Regions from separate parts of the Homo sapiens genome. Here region 2 is linked to region 1. A link means that fine-mapping ties the variant in region 1 to the expression of a gene that starts in the linked region. Tissue or cell type: thyroid. Region 1 holds a variant in brackets; the other region holds the start of a gene. All regions are shown on one strand. Distances are from middle to middle.

Region 1 (10,719 bases):
TGTGCAATGTGTCTTTCACCATTTAGTTCCCTTCTTTTCTCCCAAGTAGACATCTGTGGTCCATTCAGGGCAGAGCCACTACTCCTGGACCATAATGAGTCACTACTACTGTTCAAATGTCATCCGTTGAGGTGTTGAGTCTGTCTAGTCCCTGAGGTGTTTGAAGGCAGTCCTTCATTCTGCATTTCCTTCTTAGGTGGCTCAGGACAGTTGCTAAGCTTTGCAAAGTGCATGTGCAGTTGCCTTGAGGTTTCTAGGGTAGCATGTGTCTAGAGAGTTGCCAACATTAATTACCAGCATTTTCTGCTTCATATGGTGGCAGGGAGGAGAACTGGGGATTGAGCATGCTAGGTAGAACTTGAAGGAAAAAAAATGCCTTGTACTGTCTGCATATTTAGCATTCTGTCAGCCCCCTGGTCAACAGATCCTGCAAAAACCCCCAAGTAAAGCAAAGATGCAGATGCTCAGGGCTTGGCAATCAAAATCTTGGAATATCTCTAGAGTGGGAGTTGGCTTCATTAACTACTGTCAAATGTCTACCTTCCTAAAACCTTTATTCTGCTTGGAGTTTTACGTAAATGAGGCCATGACTCTTAGGATCAGAAATAAGGAGAGGGAGAAAGGAAAGAAACTAAGATCAATTTAAAAAGTTCATTCTTCGGATGTGAGGATCTCCTCGCCACAACCCAGTGAATTTTCTGAGAATACTTTATGGGGTTTTCAGTATTTTCTGTAAGCCAGTTTTACCAATTTAAAAATGTTTCCTAGTTGGAAAAGTGCATTTTACTTTATTTGAATACATTTTTGGTAAGCTTGTTAAAATACTCATACCTACATAATTTTTTTCTCTCTTATCCATCAATTATTTGGAAGTGAATCTACCTATTCCAGTAAACCCTATCCCATAGATGTTGGTGTTTAATTTTCCTTTTTTATCAAATCATCTCACTAATATTTTGATTTTCAATAGTATTATTAGCATTTTAAAAGATAAGTTCTGGACTCATTTTTTTTCAACACATAAAGGAATCTGTGTCCCTTAAAATTAAAATATTTTCTCTTCTATCCACTAAATGGTCCTTTACATAAAGACCTTGATATTGATAGCCACTCAATTCTCATGTAAACATTTACTAAACATTCTGAAATTTCTGTGTTGACTATATACCTTGATAATATTTCTATCTTTTTTTTTTTAACTGACTCTTCTCTCCCTCAAGGTGTTTCTTATGTTCTTTACATTGGATTGAATCACTTGCTGTGTGAGGGGAGAGAGCCTATCTGCCTGGATGCTGATAAGGTTTCTGGCAGAGTTGATGCTGAACACATGCTTGCTGAGTGGAGAAAAGGGGACACCTTTCCACTATCGTAATTTAAGTAAAAAGAGGAGGGTAGAGACATCAGACCTCTTAATATGTACCTCACTGAGGAGAGAGAATAACAATTCTTTTCTAGGAAAACTAAAATAGTACAGGGCTAGAAAACACTAGTTGAACATTGAAACCAACTAGAAAAACAGGTTCCTAACAGTCATTTAAAGCCCTAGTGAATGTATGCCCCAAGAGAAGAGGTTTAGAAACATTTAGCAAAGCTATACTTTGACTTTACTGAATAAATGAATCTTTAAAAGTAGCCCAGATTTTTATTTTAGCTTCAAAATTTGCCTTGGTTGTCTCATTGGAACCAATTTACAAATGTCAGAATTTGCATTAGAGTGACATCATATGGCTTTAATTAGGTATGTGATTGTTCTGGTCAATGATAATTATGAATTATTAGGTTCTACTCAAGCCAGGGAACTTGGATCTCAATTTCATATTTTAGGGTGAGGAGACAGTAGCAATGCAGTTCCTAAGGACAGAAAGACCAAAGTTTTGCCAGTTTGGAGTACCATGTGCTGTATTTGTAGATTACCTCTATTTTCTAGCTTATACCTGTCATGGAAAAATCAAAGCCCTTTCAGAAATTATACGTAGATAGATTATGCAAGTCTGTCAAATAAATGCCTCCTGTACAGGAAGGTTGGTAAGTTTTTACTTAGTAAAATCAGGAGGCAACTGTCAGAGACAGCACTAACATGGATAAGACTGGGTCATTTAGAGACTCACAAAGAAGACCACTGTCCTCGTTGGGAACTATGACAAAACAATGTCATTTTGTAATATAAATCCACCAAAAACTCATTAATAGATTCTGTTCATGGCCTATAAAAGCCATTCTCTCATTTCTTATTGCTTATGAAATCTCGTTTAAGATATTACATCAATCACATAGAGGCCCTTTGAATTGAGTAAAAACAAGGTCTGGCCTTGTTTGAGGTGGTTTGAGGTGAGCATATATCCTAGTTTTGGCCTGGGAAATAAAGGGGAATATCTACTAGAGTTTCTGGGAAGGTTTATTTTCACGGATAAAGAAAAATTTTGTTTTGCCTTTTATTTCCCACTGATCTGGGATGTGGAATAAGACAATAATGCCTGTTGCAGTGAAAGCCATTTTTTGACTATGAAGTGAGAAAACTAAGGAAGAAAAATCAACATATTTAAAAGGACAGAGAAATAAATTAAAAGACCCCAGTGTTAGTAGTAATATCATTGCTGCCACTCTGGAACCACCTGTCTTCAAACTTCTTATTGTGAGAAATAATTATATCCCTATATGTAAACCATTGACATTTGGCCATTATATTATTTGCAGCCAAATGTATTTTAATTGATACCATTTGTTTACATTTGAACATGCTCTTGTGTGAATAATACGTGCGTGTTTTAGGTAACTATGAAATATAAACATATGCATATCTTCTTTCCATTTTTAGAGAGGGGATTATAGGTTTGGGAAATTTCATATTGTAGAATCCATTGAAGTTGGTGTTATGTAATATTTACTTACAGCAAATAAAAATAAAGTCTATATTATGTAAAATATATAATGTACATGATACTAGTGAACTATAAGGGTGTTTACTTGAACCTGCACTCTGAATGCGTACCATAGATGGCCTTACTGATAAATTATGTCAAAATGACTTCAACTTATCATAACCTACAATGCTCTAATCACATACCGGTCACAAATAAAGTATTTGCGTATGTAACTCTCAAAAAGTCATTATTAATCATTAGGGAACATTAACTGGTACTTTAAATGGAAAATACACTAATGGAAAAAAAATGACTTGCTGTTATTGGTAGCTATGTTGGATTAAAATGCCACTTTTTTGACATTCCTTCTATTAAGATATAGAGACCTCTCCCCTTGAATGCAGACAGATACTGCATTAGTGATGCTGTTTCTGTTTCTGGACCCAGGCCTCAAGAATTGGTGGATTCATTTTCCTTCCTCTGAGAAGACCCTCTTAGGCACTAGATAAGAAATCCAACACCTTGAACATTCTATGTTGTGAAGAAGCCCAAGCTAGCCATGTGGACAGGCCCCAGGGATAGAAAGTGAGAGAAAGAGACCTCCATCAACTCCTAATTGTTCTATTCCTCCCAGCTTAGATACTAGACATATAGGTGAAGAAGTCTTCAAATGACTTCAATTTCGTCTGTCATCTGACTGCAGTCACGTGAAAGACCCTAAGCAGGAATCACCCAGATGAGCCTGTCAACGCTCAGAAACATAAGGAATAATAAATTATTTTAAGTCACTAAGCATTGGGGTAGTTTGTTATGTACCAGTAGATGACTAGTGTAGTGACCAATAACTAATAAAAGAACATTATACTGTGGCAAAATATTTTTACACTTTGGAAAAGAAATTGGAAAGGGAAAACATTTAAATTAAGTTATCCAAATTGGAAGAGTCTGTTTTCTGCCTATCTTCTGGTTCTCTTTGTATATGAATTTATTTTTTAAAAAAACAACATGTCTACTGCTACACAGATTAAAAAGCTGCTCAACATGAGTGGCAATGTTATGTACATAGCCCCATTTTATCTTTTGTCTATGTCCGGTGGATTGAGATGGGTGTGCCTCCTGTTTTAGAATATCCAGTCTTCTTTCTGTCATCCTGATCAGTGATGCAACCAGAAACTTGAACACTGATATAAAGATTTCCTTTTCCTCCTCCAGAAAGTTCTTGCCCTTGAGCAGGATTCAGTAGAAGCCTGCAATATTTGAAGCAGTCACCTAGCAGTTGTTTAACGTGGCTGACTATGCCCTGCAGGCTTATACAGAAGGAGATAGAGCAGGTTGTCAATTATTTCTGCACTCAGGGCTACGGACTAACAATATGCTTGAGTGAGGCAGAGGTTACACATCAGCTGCAATCCCACAGGCAATCCAAATCTGCCATTAATGGTAAGGAACTAAGAGTTTCAACAAGGTTGAGTTCCCTTGGTTGTGAGTTCCCAGTGAGGCAAACTTGGACCAGGATATAACAGTTCTTGTTAAGATAAGTCAGTGCATCAGCTAGAAGATGAACCGGTAGGAATGGCAGCAACATGTCATCAAATTATAGTTCAAACTCCAAGGTCTATGTGTTGTCAGGCCTTTATGACTCTGAGGCCTGCATCTTACTGACAGCACATGCAATCGGAGAGTTCCTGCAGATGTTACTTCCTCTGGAATAAAACTGTTGCATGAATTTACCTTATCATCATCCCAAAGTGTAGCCATTTTACAATGTTAAAACTATGGAAATACCTAATGAAGTGATTAGGGCATCTAATTAGAAGCCTCAGATTCAAACTTTGACATGATTTAGGGTAGTCTGTGGTGAACATATTTGTTAAGTTATAGAATGAAGTGTTGAAGACATCAGCTATAAATATTCTATGTCACCTGTTGGTAGAAAGGACACTGATCTAACAAATTTTTAAGTTAAATTAGTTCCA[C/T]GATAACAAATACTGAAATAGTCCCCAAGGAAAGACCATTTCACATAAATATCATTTATTTTTCTAACCAAATGAAGTCTCCTCTTTGAGAATGCTGTGCTCCTTTATAGCATATTATGGGGATAGTTTCAGTCCACATACTACAGGATGGTCACAGTCCTCCAAGATATTTCTTTTGATCTTTCCCATGGTAGATTAAAAAAAATTGTTTCCTTTTTCACACATTTATCCAGATGTGTGGATAAATCTAATGAAATAAGAAACACAGGTTATTCTACTATTAGATCATATGAAATATTTATCATTTCTCCCCTTCTTGAATTAAAACTCAGTAGAATAGGTTAACCGTGGTCCTACGAAGCCCTACCTTTCTTTTTCACTCATTTGTCTCTCACTCTTCTGCGGTTTTCCTCAGAATCATAAAAGCAGATTTTAACTCATCTTGGAGTTTAGTATATAGTTGAGGGAAAATCATCCCTGGCAGACGTTTTTTTCTTCTGAATTCCTCATTATGCCTTGGCTTCTGGTATTCACAGGACTGGGATTTTGCAATGCTTCCATGAAACACTGGATGGCTCTGAGTTTAGTCTAAATGGGGAAAGGGCCAGGAAATAAACAGGAATTAAAGGAAATGAAAATCACAAGGAACAAAAGCACACTAATATGTTAAAATATTGCTTTCCTCCTTTATCAAATACAGTGAATCCCCTGTAGGTTGAACCTTTCTTCTTTTAGCTACATCCTCATATCATTTTTTTTCGTTTTATTTATTTTTTATTTTTTGAGATGTCATCCGGGCTGGAGTGCAGTGGAGCTATCCGGGCTCAAGGAATTCTCCTGCCTCAGCCTCCCAAGTAGCTGGAATTACAGGCACCCACAACCACACCCTACTAATTTTTGTATTTTTAGTAGGGACAGGGTTTCACCATGTTGGCAAGGCTGCCCTCGAACTCCTGACCTCAAATGATCTGCCCACCTCAGCCTGCCAAAGTGCTGGGATTATAGGCGTGAGCCACCATGTACCCAGCCTATTCATGTCTTTTTGAAAAATGTCTATTTCAGATTTCTGGATAGGGACCTAGGAGGATACTTACACTACATAGGGTGTCACTACATCTTCTCTCCTGGCTATTAGTTTTCTTCTTTACTATTACTATAGAAAACTAAAGCAGTCAACTTTGAAACCATTTTGATAGGAAATTATAGTGGTTAGGTTTATGTGTCAGCTTGGCTAGCCTTACGTCCAATCTATAGTTATTTAATCAAGCATTAATTAAGGCATTGCTGTATTTTGCAGGTGTGATTAAGTGAATAATCAGTTGATTTTAAATAAGATCACCTGAGTGGCCCTGATTCAATCAGGTGATAGGTCTTAAAAGTACAACTGAGGCTTCTCTAAAGAAGGAGTGTCGGCCGTGAGCAGCAGCTTCAGCTTGTGCCTGAGAGTTTTCAGCCTGCCCTTCCTGAAGGCTTGTGAACATGCCTGGCCACCACCCATAATCCATAAGCCAATTCTCTGCAGTAAATCTCTTAATATCTATCTCCCACTAGTTCTGTATCTCTGCTTGGACCCTGTCTGATACAGGGAGAAAGAGTTAATGGGTGATAATGGCTGAAGATGTTGTCTTCCTATGGAAAATAATATTCTTTTTAAATGCTTTCAAGGAGGCTTTAAATGTTGGCCTTATAGGTTCTGTCCTGTACAGTTCTCAGTGGCACCATTTGTATATCTTATGTTTTAAATGCCACCTCCTGAGGATTTTCAGTGTGATAGTTTTGGTTTTAACGCTGTTCCTTGAAGTAGTGAAAGTGTGGCAATTTGAGTCACTGTAGACGTCAGCTGTCTTGGGCTTCAGACACCAGATGCTGTTGATTGCTTCTCTACCTATGCATAAAAGCAGCCCCAGTGTACCCAGATTCTGAAAGAGTATTATTGAATCCATCTATTAGCCAAACTGTGGAGAATGAAGGATGAACCTTGCTCATAAAGAATTGCTGCCATCGAGGTTAAATGGTTGTGTTCCTAATAGCATGACATACTTTAGATGGAGGCCTTGGTGTTTGGAAAAGGGCTGGGTACTGTAAATTAGATTTCCAATCCTGGTATTGGAAAATAGCATATAAGTCATACTGTTCTGCAGGGCTGGTGGTCTAACCACCAATCTAATCATTGCCAAGCAGAGTTGTACTTTCTGGAGCCTCTCGGGGTTACTATTCTTTCAGAGATGACACAAAACATTTACTGAGTAGAATATGTATCTATTTTTTTCCAGTATTTCCTTGCGTTTCCAACTTTCTTTCGTCCTGTCTTTCATCCTCACTTCCTGATTTCTCTTAGTTTCACTTAAGTGATTCAGCAGGGAACTCACAGTTCTGATAAATTATTCTTATAAAAATAAGATTGTTTGGCTTATGATAAAATGACTATACCTTTGTCAGGCCTTCAAAGGAAGTTTTACTTCAGATGTTTAAATGTCAGAGCACCCTATAAAATTATCTAGAAGCACTGAACTGTCCAAAATAATTTTACAAAACCCCCCATCTTTTAAATTCTATCTAACAACTGTCAGTATTGCAGTGTCAGATCACCCAGCGGCATATGTGTGACCTCGCGGTATGCTGTCTTTTTAAAAAGCATGCACTCTTTCGCTTTCCCTAGTCCTTTTCTCCATCTGCCTGCTGACCCATGTGGCTGTTTTAACATCCACCTCAGTGGAAGCCTCATACCTGCCTGGCCAGCAGAAAGTAACACAATGACAGCAGTTTCTGTGGGACTGAAGAGGAGGGGATGAGAAAGCTTGGATGTCCTGTCTTTTTCTGGACAGCTAAAATGAAGATAGAGGACAGCTCCAGGAAAAGTCATGCCCTGGAATTTTCAATCAGCATGCATCGGTTTAGGGAGTGGGTGAATAAATGGGCAATCTATTTCAGGGCAGTTTCCCTTCTGGAAGAAGGGGCAATTTGTTTTAGGGTCACGTGCTGGGTAACTATCTGCATAAGAAACCCTAATAATTTCCAGCACAAGCTATTCACCAGAGAACCTTGTGACGACTTTCTCAGGAAGGTTAGTTTATAATGAATCAGAATCTGTCAACAAACTGATCACGATTGTGTTCACCCCAGTAGTCACCGCAAGTGTGTTCAGGGTGGTAAGTGCTTCCTTTGAGAGTATACAAGATTATTTACAGGCTAATTTTCATCTGAATTTCTTCCACACTTTTTACCATGACATTTAACTGGTATAATTTCTTCATATGATCATGTAGACAGTTATGTTGAGAGACCAAATGCCTCTTTGCTGAATTACATGAAGCAAAACAATATTTTAAAAGGAAACCAGCAAAAATGTTATTTTTACTCCTAACCCCCAAAATGACCTTTTTTTCCGTTAAATGTAGAGAGAAGTAATTTTTTTCATTAGAAAAGATTGTCTTTTTTTTTTAAATAATTGACTGGGTTCAGTAGATGGAAATTATTGACTACATAAGACTATATAAAAGCCATATGGAGGGGGTTACACTAATATAATTAAAATGTATTGATAGTTTTAAAAATACTTAGTCGTATAAACTATCTAATGGGTGTGTTCAAGTCTAAGTTATATTAATGCCAGTGGACGTTACACCAAACATACATGTGGTTGCCAGATTTTATTTTGAGATTTTAAATTTATTAGAACCTCAAACTCACATTAAAGGTCTCGTGTGGTAGAAACAAAGATTCCCTTAAACCTCTGTGAACTGAAATTGCCATGTCTCATATAGCTTTACAGTTTTACACAAGAACACTGTGGCGAGATGAAAGCTATGTTCTGTGACATCCTCTGTGGTATTGTTGTGTCTCCAGCTCTCTACCCTTGAACAATCCTGTTTGGTGACTTCTGTGTCTCTGTGGGTAACTCAGGAAATCTGTCTGATGTAACATCTTGGAAGGCACAACTCCAGGCTAACTGATCAGAAAACACTTACAGAGCTAGCTCAGACTATCAGTTAGCTTTCTAAATCTTCATTATGTTAAAACAGAAAATGTCGTAGTGAAAAAGAAGACAGTTTGTCCCCATATCTCTGTCTCAAAAAGTATGTTTGTTCACTGATGACCCAAGGATTTTTCCTAAAAAATGAAGTTGGTCAAAGGCAATCAAAGACAACTCTTTATTTTGGAGAGAATTCAAACTTTGAGGCAGCTGACTCCTCTCTGTTCAATAATAGCAATCTCTTTAATCAGTGTTAGGTCGATAGTGAAATATTTACTGTGGATGCTTCCAGAATGATTTGAAGCCAGCTCTTTGGAGAGCATTGATAATCTCAGGGTAATCTAAGCCATCCTTACGTGCGGTGTCAATGTGCTGAACTGAACAATGCCTCTGATACAGATCTGTGGATCATAAACAATAAAGAGCTATTTTAAGAGATTTCATATAAAATCACCTCTGACTAAGTACATGCCAGGGCAGATCTCAGTGGGGGAGAGGAGAAATGTGAGATTTTAGAATATCAGTAGTAAAGATCAGAACATGGTAAAAGCCCAATTACATCAAAGTTGAAGGACCTTTAAAAACATATTTTTAAAGTGGTGTGTTTTTTTGTTATTACTATATGTGCTATAACTTTTGCTCTATCTTTTGTTAGCTATCAATATTTTAGCTTTTCCTCTCATTACTAAATGTGCTTCAGCACTTCTGGGACAGAGATTATGAGATTTTCTACATTTAGTTGATCTCATCCTGTGAATTTACTGAATAATTAAACTTCTAGGAAGATACGTTGCTAAAAACAAGTGATGGGTTAGTTTTGACTGCAATGCTGTATAAATTATTGAAGTATATCTCTAGAAAACAAGCTTAATAGCCTATTATAAAGCTTATTTGAATAAAAAGACAAGAACAGTCACTCACAGAGATTGTCTAGCAGCACTTCACAGACAATTGCACAAATTATCTAAAGGTGGCATGACGTAAGCTCCATTCCATTTATAATATGACATAGTTGATATGGACCACTGCTTGCAGAGCCATATCTCAATTATTTTAAATAGAAAACTTTAATAAATGCACTCAATTAGAGCTCAGTTTTAATCAGTTGCAACCTGGGGTAGGCAATGTCACTTTTCAAAGAAGCAAAACCTTCTTTCAAACAATTATGGGACTTGAAAAGATTGTATGCATGGGATGAAGTTGTAATTCTAAAACACTAAAGGTGCTTCTGCAGAAGTATTTTGTAGTAAATTTGCCTGTGCAGCATACAATTGTGAAGAAAAAAGCTTGGGCAGGTTGTGACATGTTACCATTGGAACATTTAGAGGGGGCTTACTAGTAAGTTACAAATTTCATCTCCAAAATTCAAAATCTAGACTATGACAAATTATTGTATAGAAACACTTTATTTTATATGTTCCTGATTAGTAAGATTAATTATTTATAACTGATAGGGCATCAAGGAATGAATTATGGTTTTGAATTAATTTACAAAGGAAAACATGTATGCATAGTAATATTGGTACATTCACCTAAATTTAAACTATTTCTTATATTTACAATCAAACCTGGTTGACAATACCTGCAAGGTGTTTAAAGATACCAATTTCATATGATTATCTGTATCTATTCAATCAGTCATTTTCCAAATATTGAAAGTCTTCAGAATGATACAAGAATCCTCCATGTGGGCACAATGCAATGTTTTACAAATAAGCTTTATCAGTCACTTTTTTAGAAAGATGTCAATGGATATTTTAATAATTTAATGTCCTTCTTGATTGGATTCTAATTTGTAATGCACACACTACAAAAATATTAGGGTCAGAGTTACACAATGCTGCTAAAAGCATTCTATAATTTATCAAGATATGTGTGCATGTATACATAAATATGTGTGTGTATCCAA
Region 2 (9,146 bases), 320 kb before region 1:
TGCATGTGGGAAATGGATATCATGTTTCTAATTTATTTTACTGGTATTCTGGTACCTTTACAGAATGGTCCCCAGAGATCCAAGCTGCCCTCTCCCTTTATGGCCCTCTGGTTAGATGGTACCGAGAGGGAGGCTGAAAAGGTCAACAGGGACCAGATAATGCAGAATCTTCTAAGTTATGGGAAGGAGGCTGTACAGAACTCAAGAGAAATGAGGAATGGTTGAAAGGGTTTAAGCAGAGGAGTACCATGATCAGATTTGTTTATTTCAAAATCCATTCTACTTACTCTGTTTGGAATGAAGAGGAGTGGAGAAGTTAGAATGGAGTGAAGATTTGAAAAAAGAACAACAGCTATGAGGTTGTTTCTGTAAACCATACTAGAGATGCTAGCAACCTGAACTAGGATGGCAGCAGTAGGAAGGCAGCATGCTACATACTTAAAAGTTAGGGGCTACAATTGACTAGACTCAAAGGTCTAGGAGGAGACGGGAGTAATTAGAAATCACTCGTTACCTTTTAGGTTTGAGCAGCTGGTAGAGGAAGATTCCAGACACTGCGATTGGGTTGACAGGGACAAACATGTTTGGAATGAAAATCTGTTAAGTTCAGTTTTATACATGTTGAGATTTGTATTTATAAAACATCAAAATGAAGATATAAATAAGTCCAAGATAAGGAGAAAGATCTAGAGTGGAGACAGATGTGGGCAGCCTCAGTAGATAGATGGAATCCATGGGATGGATGAGAATGTCTAGGGAGAAAATATACAATAGAAATACATAAATGATCCCAGGGAAGAACCTTGAAAATCTCTTACATTAAATGGTCAAAAAGAGGCTGAGAAAATGAAAGAAAAGCAAGATTATGGCTTCAAAGAGCCAAGAAATAGTCCAACATGTACAATGCTAGAGATAAAGAAAAGAGGGATCCCTAAATTATCATGAAGTTGTCTGTGAACTGGTTGAGAACAGTTTCAGTAAAGAAAGATTAATCACAGTTGCAGCACTTACTTATGCCATATATGCTCAAGCCCATCACTTAGTTTCTTCATCTGCAAAACAGGAAAAATGCCCACCGTCTGTCTACCTCATGGTTTTGTTATGAGGATTACATTAAATACCGGATCTGAAAGTACTTTATAAACATTAAACAGAGGGTATAAAGTAGTATTATTAAATTGTGTTGTTTTGACAATGTTCACAAATGCCAATTCTCTGTTTCACCCACATGGCAAGCTGATGGGCACTGGCCAATGTAACGTATCAGCAGAATGGACTCACTGCTAGGCAAAAGCTGTAAGAAATAGTGCATAGTTCAACATGCTTCTCTTTGCACTGTGACCACCTCTACAGAAGCATGTTTCAAAACAAATCCTTCATAAGCCTAGATTTTTGAGTGACTGCCATGAGGAGGGCCCTCTGGCTGACTCATGCTGACATGTAATATGGGAACAATTAAATGTTGTTTTAAAGCACTAAGATTTTGGAATTATAACAACTAATTGTAGTGTAACAACAAGTAAATAACTAAATAAAAGGTAGAAAAATCAAGTGGAAAATGCTATTTTGGGAGGTCATCAATGAGACAACATGGAGGTGGTCAGTCATGCTAATAATGTACTAATTTTTATTTTATAGCAGAGTAACTCATTAATCCTCTACACTTGATTCAAAATTCTCACAGGTACAGAAGGTGAAAAGAACAACTAATGAAGGTGATATGGTTTGGTTGTGTCCCCACTCAGATCTCATCTTGAATTCCCACGTGTTGTGGGAGGGACCTGATGGGAGGTAACTGAATCATGGGGGCAGGTCTTTCCCACGCTGTTCTCCTGATAGTAAGTAAGTCTCACGAGACCTGATGGTTTTAAAAAGGGGAGTTTCCCTGCACAAGCTCTCTTCTCTTGTCTGCCACCATGTGAGACATGACTTTCACCTTCTGCCATGATTGCGAGGCATCCTCAGCCACTTGGAACTGTAAGTCCAATAAACCTCTTCCTTTTGTAAATTGCCCAGTCTCAGGTATGTCTTTATCAGCAGCATGAAAACGGACTAATACAGAAGGGGAAAAGGCCAAGGTAAAGAAGGGAAGGAACATCCAAAACATCCTAAGGGAACATCCAAAAAATTTCAAATCAAAAGATATCTGTTGGGGAAGGATGAGACAGTCCATCAAAGAGAAATTTCCTTCTTCATCACCTTAATTATATACTGTTGTTTGTACCTCAAATTTTCTTCACTCCTTAGTAAGCATACTTTGCACCTAAGTGTTTGACTGGTTATGTATTTGTGTTAGGCCAAAGACACACAGTCCAAATGGATTATCAGAAATAAATGGAAAATTGGACAAGGAACTAAGACCAGATTGTATGAAGGAAAAATGTTTTATTCTTCAAGTGTTAACAATAGAAGTTACCACTAACAAATGCCAAATTACTATTTGATATGCCTAAATGGAACATGTATGCTAGCAAATGGCCATTACTCAGAACCAAGGACAAAAGTAAAATCCGGGTCAGAGTGAGGCATGAGGGCCCACTGGACGAGACTTTTCACCAAGCACACTGGATTCTCTTCCCTTCTTTATCTTGGCCTTTGTTCCCTTCATTAGTTTTGGCAAACCATGAAAGAAGATTATAAATGCTTCAATCCCAGTGGAGTTGGAAATAAAGTACATGAAAGAAACACTTAATAAAGAATGTTAATCTGTTTGTGTCATTTAAAAAAAAAAGGAAGGGGGTGTAGATAAAACATTTCCACAACTCTTCTTTAATAAATATCTTAAGTGTCCTTTTACAAAGCACACAGGTAAATTAATGTCATGGTTACAAGGACATCAAAAAAAAAATCTAACCACTACCTTTAATCACTATCTTTTGTTCTAAATTTTTTCTGACTATTTCTAAATCAAATCCAACCTTAAACCTATGACGATTATGCACTAAGTTTCTCTGAAAGCATATACTGTAAATTCTGAAAACAATTTCACAAGGCTGCTCCTCATATGGTTTATATAAGAGCATAATCATCTGATTAAGTGAGGGACAGCTCAAGGTGATTATTTTACAGAGGCCTCATTCACTACTATATACAAGCTCAAGAATGAAACTTCACATCCCTTACAATCCCTAGAGCAGTGTTTTATTTATAGGAGTTCCTCAATAAACACTTGCTGATTTGAATGCATTTAATACCTGAAAATGCTAGGACACAAACAATTTGCTGGGCTTTTTTCAAACTCCAAATCAACCCATTTTCATTACTCTCAACGCTCCTTCATGCCAGTTAACTAGTTGGATGTTTTCCATCACTCGAAAAATTGGCCATGTATATTCTGTTGCCAGGATAGTTTCCATTCTGCAGTGTCTCTCCTAAAAGGGGAGAAACTATTAAATCAAAATGGGGTAACCTCACAAGTATAACTATTACAACTTGTATAATAGCTCTTTTACTTCAAACAACAACGACAACAGAAAAAGACCTGTACCTTTTTAGTGGAACTTATGAATAGAATTATTAGCCCAGTAACTAAAGTTGTATGGTACACAATGGTAGAAGACAAGCTAAAACGACATTGGCCTGTAAAAGTTGCTTTCCTGACCTTTCTCCCTCTTCAAGATGGTTAAAGTCACACACGGACAAATGTTGATGTACATTTAACTTCTCAATGTTGATCCAAGGGGAGAAAAAATTGATCAATGTAGGTGTAATCTTCCCCTAAATGAGGAATATTAGCAAGGAAAAAACAAAAGGATATAGTGTCTGCCTGAAGGAATCCTCTTAGATATAAAATCACAACATTTGCTATGAAATAAACTAGAAAGTTTTAAATGCGTAATTACACGTGCCAGGAGTTATGCCCACGTTACTCCACAGGCCCACGCTAGTGGGTGCCAAAGTCAGAAAACCTGCAGCGGCGGTGAGTCACTCCCCAGCAGCACTCTGGGGAATAAGTGTTGGAGCCACAGCACGTACCCTATGGCGCAAGACCGCTGATTAGAACAGAGGGGAAAGGGGATGAGGAAAGAAGTTTCTTCAGCGCCCGCTCCGGGCACCAGCGCTGTCAAACCTGCCACTACGGAAGCCACAGAACCCGGTTACCCGAGTCACCCCGAGCCCCGCCCACTCAGGTTCCTCCCCGCCTGGGGCGGGGTTGGCGCGCGAGGGCCGAGGGGCGGCCCGTGTCCCGAGACGGCTCCTGGGAGGCGGGCTGCCTGTCTAAGTGGGGGTGGTGGGATTCCGGCGGTACCTGCGCTGGAAGTCCACGGCGTAGGGCTTCAAGTACGGGTCGATCTCCAGGAGTCTGGCCAGTTCGGGCACGTCAGCCAGGGCGGCATTGAGCGCCGCCTCGTAGTCCTCGGGCCGAGCCGCGGGAGTCATCGGAGCCGCCATATTCCGCCGCAGTCCAAGTAGCCGAGGCCCGAGAGGTCGAGTGGGGCCTGAGCGGGCGCTGGAGCTCTAGCTGGGACGCGGCGGCTAGGGCGGAGCCGGAGGGCGCCTAGGCGTGTCGAGGCAAGCCGAGGCGAGCCGCGGCGGTCCGGGGCCCTTTATAGCCGGGACGGAAGGCCTCCTGCCCTTTCTCCCCCCGCCAGCGGGGAGGAGCGGATCCCGGGGTGATGCCGGGACGCACGTCCGGAGCGGGTAGGAGGCACCGAGGCCTCTCCGCCCACTCACGCGGCTGGCACCTGGAGGCCGCAGGGACCTGCCCTTTCCTCCCCTTAACGGTTTTTTCCTGCTGGCGGAGGTCATTCTAGGAGGTGGGTCCCAAGCTGACCTCGCTCAGCCTTGGCCTTCCTCACCCTGACATATTCTTGGCTTTTCTTTACCCACTTAAGCACCCACTGACAGCGACCCCTTCAAATTGGACATAAGGGGTTTTTTTGGAAAGGACCGTATTTCTCAAAGTTCTGAGACTTTTGAGGGGCAGTATTTCAAACATATCATGTAAATTCACAGAGAGGGGAACAGTCAAGTGTAGCTAGAGTACTACTGCTGAAAATGTTAATACCTCTTACAACCAGGACTCTCCTAAGTTTGCCAGGTCACGTGAATTTAAAATTAACCAAGACACAGAATCCTGGAATACCGTTGGAATTCTGCTGTTCTGGTACTCTTTTCTGCATTACCAACAGCTAAGAATTTTAGCCATGGGAAGAACTTTTCTCATTCTCCGTAAGGCCAAAAAGGAAAAGGCATTTGCCTGTGTTTATAATTGTTAACAAGCTTTTCAACGATTAAACTACCTTTGATAACACAAATGATATCATTGAATTGGAACTCCACTCTGCCACTTACAGTGATAAGGCAAGAAACCTCTCTTCCTCTTGGCTTGGGAAGCTCCCACTTGGAATTCCCTTCTTTTATTGCCATTAACTGACTAGCTTCTATTTCAATAATTGCTTTTTAGGAATACAGAGTTGGACTCCAAGAGAGATGGACCCACCAAACCCAGGAGGGTCCAAGCTGCTTTACACCTAGAAACTAGAGAGGATTGAGGATATTTTTCTTGTTAAAACCCAGAACTGGAGGATCCTAGGGGTTATGGAGGAGAAACAGTATTAATCAGCCGTGGGCCTTGAATTTTAAAATATTTCAAAGGAAAGTTTTTATAAGGGGTTTCATAGACTTGAAAGATAAGTGGATATGAAGACAGACCTCAGTGTGAAAAAGTGAAGGACTTGAACGACTTTAAGACGTGCCTTGTTTTCCATAAAGATGACAAAAAACTGCTGCAGACATTTGTAAAATATAAAGCACTAAAAAAGGAAGAAAATTAAAAAAAAATAAAAACCCGAAGCAGGACAACTATTAATAACAGACCCACAGATCTACATCTCCAAGCCTAAACTTTTTTCAGAAACCCAGGCTTGTATCACTGCCTGTCTACTGAGATTTCCATTTAGCTGGCTAGGAGACCTAAACAAACTGTCTGCAAAACGTGACCTAGAATCCGTCTTCTCATCCTTCCTGCTGTCACTCTTATGCAGGCCACTGTTTTCCTTCACTTGGACCAGAATGTAGCTCTCTAACTGACTTCCCCTCTTCTACTCTTTCTCACCTCTACTCCATTCTCTGTACCAGTGTTTCTCACACTTTAATGTGCATATGAATCACCTAGGGATCTTAATTGAGTTCCGATGTGGTGCTTCAGATTGCATTTTTAACAAGCTCAGAAGTGATTCTGATGCTGGTGGTTGGGGACACAGTTTGGTGAGACTCTACACTGAGTAAATCAGACGATGTCATTTAGCAACTTAAATAGCATAGTATTTCACTTAGGGTAAAATAGAAACAGCTTATCATTCTCTAACAAGGCTTGTATAATCTGGACCCTGACTACCTTTCCAGCCACTTTTCTCATCATTTTCCAGTTTTACTATGCTCTAGTCACACTGACTTTCCTGGAACTCAGTGAATTTGTTGTATAATAGCCTCTAAGATTATTTGCTTGCTGTTCTCTCTGTTGGAAATTTTCAGGGAGCTGAGCTCTACTTGCTTAATTTTTTCCAAGCCTTCATTCCAGCCTCAGCAAAAATGTCACCTCATACCTGAGAAACTTCTGATTATAGACTCCTCAGTGTCTTCTGTATAACTTCAATCTCTTCTATGCAACAGTTAACAGAATCTAGGTGTTTGTTTTTCTCCTATTTATTGACCTTTCCCTTTAGAACCTAAGCTCCCCACGAGCACGATCCTAGCGTACATATCTGCCTACCTAGGTGGTTCACCATTGAGCACATATTTATTGAAGTCCCATGTGCCGGCCATTTTCCCACGTACTGTGGATAAATGATAAGACAAGTCCCAGTTGTCATACTCTATTGGGGGTAGGAGGGAGAGGAGACACAATTACCAGTGAAATACATAAAATAATACAAAACAATGTCAGATAGTGGTAAGTGCATTGTCGAGAATTAAAACTGAGCAAATATCTGTGTTAGTTCCGGTCGTCAAGAAAGGCCGTTCAGAACTGACATTTAAGCTGAAGTGTGATGACAAGAAGAAATGAGCCATGAGAGGAAGAGCATTCCAGAATGGCAGAGTTCGTGCAATGGAGGAATTGAATTGGTCTTTTAAAAAAAAAAAAAAATCTAGCATACCCGGTGTGTAATGAGGAGTGGCAGGAATTGTGGTGCAAGAGCTAGGCAGCTGTTCGTTCATATAGGCCCTTTAATGTCCATTTAAGGGATGCTATTGGAGAGTTTTCAGCAGAACACTGATATGATATGGTTTAATTATTAAAATATTCTATGTGGCAAATGAATTATAAGGATACAAGAATGGCAATAGGGGTGCCATTCTTGTGGGAGACAAGGGAGACAATTAGGAGGTGATTAACATTGCCTAGGCATGAAATGATGATGGCTTGGTCTGGGGTAGCAGATAAAATGATGAAATAAAGATTTGGGATGCATGATATAATGAATGCCTAAACTATTATGAAGTCATTTAGTGTCTGTATTAGTTACCTAGGGCTGTAGTGATTAAGTACCACACACTAGGTAATTTAAGCAACAAAAATTTGTCACCTTACCCTAGTTCTAGGGGCTAAAAATCAAGGTGTCCACAGGTTTGGTTCTTTCTGGGGGCTCTGAAGGAGAATTATTCCATGCCTCTCTCCTAGCTTCTGGTGATGGCCAGCAATCTTTGGCATTTCTTGGCTTATAGTTGCATCATTTGGATCTCTGCCTCCATTGTGACATGGCATTTTCCTGTGTCTCTGTCTCTTCACATAGTGTTCTTTTTATTAGGTCACCAGCCTTATTGAATGAAGGACACACCCTATTTCAGTATGACCTCATCTTAACTAATTATATCTGCAATTATTATATTTCCAAATAAGGTCATATTCTGAGGTAATGTTAGGTTAAGACTTCAGTGTATCTTTTTGTGGAGAAATACAATTCAACCCATAACATTTTTGACACACCAAAACAGAGAAAATATTTGAGAAATAGAGTTTATAAGATTTGGTGACTGATTGGATATGAAAGTGAAAAGGGAATTAAAGATTGAACTTCTGAGCCTGGGGGAATTCTGTCTAGCAAAAATAAAGAAGGCCTTGAAAGAGGGAGAACTAAGTTCAAGGTGTCAGCTCCTGGATACCCAAGTCAATATGGCAGCTGGAAATGTAATTCTGGTGCCTAATAGATCATGTAGGAATGAAGATAACAATTAGAGAATGATCCATATGCGTTTACTAGCTAACGGTGGCAAATAGGAGATCCTCAATAAATATTTTGAAACCTTTCTTTCTTGGTATTTGAGTCTCATGTCACATGTTTGCTTTTCAATAGTTTGCATTACAAAGCCAAAGAGTTACTGATAATGTGCTACATCACAGTTGAACCTTAAAAACATAGCAAGTGAAAGAAACCACTCACAAAAGACCACATATTATATGATTCCATGTATATGGAATGTTCAGAATATGCAAATCTACAGAGAAAGAAAGCAGATTTTTAGCTTCCTAGGGCTGGAGGGCAGGGGAAACGAAGAGTGAGTGCAAGTGGATATGCGATTTCTTCTTGGTACACATTTTCTAAAATTAGTTGTGGTTATGGTTTCATGGCTCTGTGGATATACTAAAAACTAATTGTACACTTTAAATGGATGAATTGTATGGTATGTGAATTATGTCTCAAAGCTATTTTTAAAAAGATTCTGAAGGATAAAATAATACTAAATATGCTTTTTAAAAGGCAAATGATTTATACCAACTAAAGATAAACTAGACTATATAAATATACCTTTTAAAATTACATATCCCCCTCGTTGAAAATCATTAGCAATGAAAAAGAAAATCAGAGAGCAGAAAGAAAAAAGAAGTAACTTTTTTTTTTTTTGAGACAGGGTCTAGCACTGTCCCCCGGGCTGGAGTGCAATGGCGTGACCTCGGCTCACTGCAACCTCTGCCTCCTGGGTTCACGCGATTCTCCTGTCTCAGCCTCCCGAGTAGCTGGGATTTCAGGTGCACACCACCACACCCTGCTAATCTTTTGTATTTTTAGTAAAGATGGGGTTTCACTATGTTGGCCAGACTAGTCTCAAATTCCTGACCTAGTGATCTGCTGGCCTTGGCCTCCCAGAGTGCTGGGATTACAGGTGTGAGCCACTGTGACCAGCCAAATAAGTAACTTTTAAGA

The links. PIP is the estimated chance that this variant, and not a neighbour inherited with it, causes the effect.
Region 2: GBE1 starts here. The variant in region 1 is fine-mapped to the expression of GBE1 in thyroid (GTEx, PIP above 0.99). The same link has a PIP of 0.9 or more in lung.

The regions. Positions count from the first base shown.
Region 1 is chr3:82,071,772-82,082,490 of GRCh38, forward strand. All of the region lies in intron 1 of LINC02008 (long intergenic non-protein coding RNA 2008), which reads left to right. Among named protein-coding and RNA genes, the nearest start is that of LINC02008, 91 kb to the left of the region's middle. The variant C/T (reference allele first, on the strand shown) is at 4,838.
Region 2 is chr3:81,757,126-81,766,271 of GRCh38, forward strand. It overlaps GBE1 (1,4-alpha-glucan branching enzyme 1), which reads right to left and starts at 4,520. Exons shown (of 16, transcript NM_000158.4): 1 at 4,250-4,520. The coding sequence starts at 4,392. RefSeq lists silencers at 1,193-1,487, 4,069-4,148, 4,649-4,748 and enhancers at 3,799-3,968, 4,309-4,598, 4,385-4,993.